2 separate regions of the Homo sapiens genome follow, and region 1 is linked to region 2. The links come from fine-mapping of genetic effects on gene expression. Tissue or cell type: blood mononuclear cells. Region 2 holds a variant in brackets; the other region holds the start of a gene. All regions are shown on one strand. Distances are from middle to middle.

Region 1 (2,500 bases), 71 kb before region 2:
CAAGCTCCTAAAATCTCAGTTTTTGTTGGGGGAGGCAGAGGGAATATTAGTTTTTCTTTTCTGTGATACCCCCTACACGAAATCTGTGTACTTTTTCTCTTGTTAATCTACCTGCAGTCAATTTATTTCATAGACTTAGTTATCCAAGCCTCAGAGAGTAGAGGGGAAGTCTTTCTTCCTCTATACCATCATCTTATGTTAATTTTTGTTGACAAATCAGGCAAGTGTCAAACATATCACAGTCTAATGGCCTCTGAGTTGGATTTTTTTTTTTTTTTTTTTTTTTTTGAGATGGAGTCTCGCTCTGTTGCCCAGGCTGGAGTGCAGTGACACGATCTCGGCTCACTGCAAGCTCCGCCTCCCGGGTTCACGCCATTCTCCTGACTCAGCCTCCCGAGTAGCTGGGACTACAGGCGCCCGCCACCACGCCTGGCTAATTTTTTGTATATTTAGTAGAGACGCGGTTTCACCATGTTAGCCAGGATGGTCTCGATCTCCTGACCTGGTGATCCGCCCGCCTCGGCCTCCCAAAGTGCTGGGATTACAGGCGTGAGCCACCGCGCCCGGCCAGAATTTTTTTTAAACAACATGGAAACAAATAAGACCTCGTTCTGTTTTCTAGGAGCTAAAAATCCAACGAAAGAAGACACAGACACAATATTCCCCTTGTTACAAAGAGAACTGTGTCAACTTTTATAACTGACACAAAGATCTGTGCTATAAGGGCGGGGAAGGTTTTTTCCTACTTTCCACAGCACTGTGGATTGTTCCACAGTTTAATTTGATCTTAATTTTTATGTGGAAATACACATGAATGTAATGAGTTCTTAAATGCTAAATTTAGGAAGCAAGGTTCGTTAGGGGAGAGAAAAAAACACCTACATGGTTATCTCTAAACTTTACATATCGAGAACCTTGGAATTTAATTTTATTGTTGTTCTGTAACATATTTTCATGTTTAAAATCAGAAAAGGCAGCATTTCTCGAGTTTCCTGCTTTCGAGGAAGGGAGGCATAAAATGTTTAAAAAGACGCCGCTCACACACCTCTTAAGAATCAGAGCACAGTGAGGAAGAGGAGCGAGGAAGCACTAGGATCGCAGCGCTACTCCCAGACCACGTCAGTGCCCAGAGGGCGCCCTCGCCTGTAGGCGGGAACCGCGAGTCCGCAGCAAGTCCCCAGCCCCGAGCTCGCGCAGGTGGGCGAGGCGGGGACGTGGTGGGCGGGGCCTAGAAAGGCGGGGCCTCTGGGGGCGGCCCCGGGGCGGGCCACGCTGGTGTGAGGGCTGCAGGCGCAGCTCCGGAGCGCCTAGAGCGCGGCGCGGGGCGGGAGCTTGGTGGAGCAGGAGCGGCTGGGCATCCTCCTGAGACTCCGGGGTCAGACGCCCACTCCAGGTAACCGGCTCTCCCTCGTGTTCCCCTGCTCGGCCGCCCGGCGGTGGGGGAAGGCTGAGAAGGATGGGTGGGAGGGAGCCGGCTCTCAGCCAGTGCCCCGTGGCCCCGGGCGGGCTGGGCTCCCCCGCGGAGGAGGAAGCAGAACCGGGGTGCGCCCGGGACCGGAATGGAGCGGCGCCTCTTCCTTCCACCTTCATTTTCCGTCCGCTCAGTGGGGCTGGGACGCCGGTGCCCCGTGTCCCCTGAAAGTCACTTTCTGGCCTCTTGCCCCTGGTCCGTGTAGCTTAGATGTCGGAGGGGTTGGCTGCGGGCGTGGATAGGCAGGGAACGAACAGACTCGCTGCCATCCCATGGGTGCCAGGGGCTTAACTTCATTTAACTTCATTGAATCCTAACGCCAGCCCGGCTAAGATGCATTTTCACCCCTACTTTACTGATAAAGAGGCCAACGCTAGGATAATAAATGACTCACCCTGGAGCAAACTATTACTAATAAGAAAAGAGACGTTAGTTTAGGGGCTCCGAAGCCTCTCCTTTCCTGCTCCCTCGCTTTCCTTCTTCTCGCGGCAGTCTAGGAAACTCGCGCGCAGGGTCTATTACGAAAACAAGTGATTCGTCTTAAAAGCATTTTACCCCCTCCTAGGTTTCTCTTTCCTCTTTTTTTTAAGTATCTCAGGCAGATTCCTCCAAGTTTTGGTTATTAGGTTTTTGAAATGGAAGAAGCCCTTGCTCACTGCTTCTTTTCTCCTGGCAGCGCTTTCTGCGCAGCACAGGCACCCTCGCCTGTCACGCCTCCCTCTCCTCTTCCCGTCTCCCAGCGTGGATGAGGGCGCCTGCAGATCCCGGCTAGGGCACGGACCGCCTAGGCCGAGGTAGGTTCTGTAGGCACCTGGCATGCTGTAGATGCATATAAACGTTGCCCTGTACACCCTTTGCCTTGTTATTTCTTTCTGCAGAAAAGAGAGTCGGTTTTTTACACATAATGGGGCAAGAGGCCAATTGGGAAGATATATGGTGTTCAAAGAAAGCCGTGGTGCCTTGAGATGAGAATGCGGCCACAGCTTTTTGTGGGCTGAATTTGATGGGTGGGAGGTGAGAGACGTGGTC
Region 2 (2,760 bases):
TGTGTTTACAAACCTTTAGTTAGACACAGAGTGCTGATTGGTGCGTTTACAATCCTTTAGCCAGAGGGAAAAGTTCTCCAGGTCTCCACCCAACCCAAAAGCCCAGCTGGCTTCACCTCTCAATGGCACTGGCCGCCAGGACTTTTGGGCACCTACCCCGGGCATTCCGGCAACCCAGAGGGAGCTCGTACCTGGATCAAGCCCAGCAGGCGCCGAGTGTGGGACCCGCTCCCAGCCCGCGCCCACCTGGAACCCGTGCTGGCCCACTAGCGCCACAGCCCCAGCTGCCGCCCTCGCCTCTGCCTCCACACCTCCCTGTGAGCAGAGGGAGCCGGCTCCCGCCTCGGCCAGCCCCAGAGAGGGGCCCCCACAGCACAGCTGCGGGCTGAAGGGCTCCTGGAGTGTGGCCAGAGCAGATGCTGAGGCCAAGGAGGCACCGGGAGTGAGCAAGGGCTGCTAGCACGTTGTCACCTCTCAAAACCACTTGAGCTTTACCATCCAACATAATATCCTTTCGTTATCTCCTCACTATAGTTCTAGAACTATCATTTGCACATTTTATGTTAGATATGATGGATCAAAATTGTTTACCAGAACTTAAATGGTAAAAAGAGGCCATATTAATTACATACTGCATTGACAATATTGATGATGCTTTGTTTCAGATATACTATATATCGATGTTAACTGCTTTTGAAATATTTGAAAATTAGCCAGGTGGGATGGCTCACATCTGTAATCCCAATACTTTGGGAAGCCAAGATGGCAGGATCGCTTGAGCGCAGGAGTTGGAGACCAACCTGGGCAACACAGTGACACCCTGTCTCTATATTTAAAAAAAAAATTGAAAATTGATACTTGTTTTTGAAATACTTGGCTTTATACATGTGTGTATAATAAAAAACAAGTATCTGCTTTGTGTAGGGCAGCACCAAAGTGGTATGTGTACATTTTCCTGGAAGAACGGAACATTGGAGGAAAAAGTGTTTGGATGCCGTGGGACAAGAGACAGGATTGAATGGGAGAGTGGAAGATAGGATGTTGTCTGTTCCTCAGCCCAGGCTCAGAGACCAGTAATTCACTGGAGTTACTATTTACATGAAGGACTTTGGGAGGCTCCAGGTACAAGCACAGATGTTTCAGGACTTCAGTGAAACATATTACCCTGATTTATAGACGGAGAAGCTTCCCCCTTCCTGGGTGCCTGCAGCACAGCTTTTAACACTGGGTTGGGATGGAAGGTTCTCCAGTGCTGTGTGGGCACCATGAGGAACTGAAAGTTTGGAAACAGCACCTAGATAAAAA[G/A]GCTGAAGTAGACACCAGCTAAAGTAATACTAACGAGGCATCTCCTAACAGGGCTTCTTGGCAGTGGAAAGGAGCAGCACAGAAAAATCTGACTGGGGCTGGGCGCGGTGGCTAACGCCTGTAATCCCAGCAGTTTGGGAGTCCAATGTGGGCGGATCACCTGAGATCAGGAGTTCGAGACCAGTCTAACCAACATGGTGAAACCCCATCTCTACTAAAATACAATTAAAAAAAAAAAATCAGCCGGTCGTGGTGGCACGCACCTGTAGTCCCAGTTACTCGGGAGGCTGAGGCAGGGAAATCACTTGAACCTGGGAGGCAGAGGCTGCAGTGAGCCAAGATTGCGCCACTGCACTCCAGCCTGGCAACAGAGCAAGACTCCGTCTCAAAAAAACAAACAACAGCAACAAAAAAACAAGAATTAGCTGAGCAGGGCGGCGTGTGCCTGTGGTCCCAGCTACTAGGGGGACTGAGGCAGGAGGATCTCTTGATCCCAGGAGGTGGAGCTTGCAGTGAGCCGAGATGGACCTACTGCACTCCAGCCTGGGTGACAGAGTGAGACTCCCATCTCAAAAAAAAAAAAAAAAAATCTGATTGGCCTTGGTACTGAGCACTTGGAAGGGGTCTCTAGTTATGGCTGGGGAAGCTTTAAAAGGTGGGCTGAGATCCTGTAGTCTGTAGAGGGGGCCCACTCAGCTAGGGAAATGTGGATGCTATCAATGTTAACGTCACTGAAGACATTTCATTAACCACAGGGCTGTATTTTTTTAGGCATTTGAACCAACCTATTTAGTAACTGCCAGGGCCACATGAGGACTTTCTTAGGCCCCAACCACGTTGCCTCTGTGGGCTCCTTCCTTCTTAAGAAAAAACAATAAAAATTGTATTTCACAACTGCATTAGTGTAAATATAAATATAATCCAGGCTGGGTCCATTATAATATATTCATTTTTTTCTTCTGATTTTAACGGAAATAAAAATGAAACCACTTTCTGTAGGCCTCTGAAAGTATTGTCGGTCGCAGGCACTCTGCCTGCTGTGACTAATGGAGACATTGTCCCTAGTAACTGCTTTCCTTTCGTTTTTTTTCCAGCAGCTTCTTCCCTCTTCCCTCACTTATGGCCCCTCCTGACAATTTTGTTGATTTCTATCCAAATCAGCCCTTTCACTAAGATTGAAAAGTTGCTTGTAAATTGGCCATGTTTAATCATTTGCCAGATATTTCAATTTTTAAAAAAACATTGTTATTAAATTGTTGATTTCTCAAATGGATTTGCTATTTTGAGAAAAAATATACTAACTATATACTCAAAATTGATTTTTTATAAAAGCAGGAAGCTACAGTTTTCTATGGGTACATGGACCCTAAAAACCTTCTGTTGTTTTTCCTAAATCCCAAACCCAGATTTTTTGTGTGGGTTCTAGAATCAGGGAGAGCAGTTCTGTGGGCTCTA

The links. PIP is the estimated chance that this variant, and not a neighbour inherited with it, causes the effect.
Region 1: it holds the start of GCNT1, and the variant in region 2 is fine-mapped to the expression of GCNT1 in blood mononuclear cells (TOPMed, PIP 0.97).

Annotation. Positions count from the first base shown.
Region 1 is chr9:76,457,913-76,460,412 of GRCh38, forward strand. GCNT1 (glucosaminyl (N-acetyl) transferase 1) reads left to right here and starts at 1,270. Exons shown (of 4, transcript NM_001490.5): 1 at 1,270-1,393; 2 at 2,148-2,265. RefSeq lists a silencer at 1,055-1,594 and an enhancer at 2,205-2,314.
Region 2 is chr9:76,528,597-76,531,356 of GRCh38, forward strand. No RefSeq gene overlaps it. Among named protein-coding and RNA genes, the nearest start is that of GCNT1, 71 kb to the left of the region's middle. The variant G/A (reference allele first, on the strand shown) is at 1,306.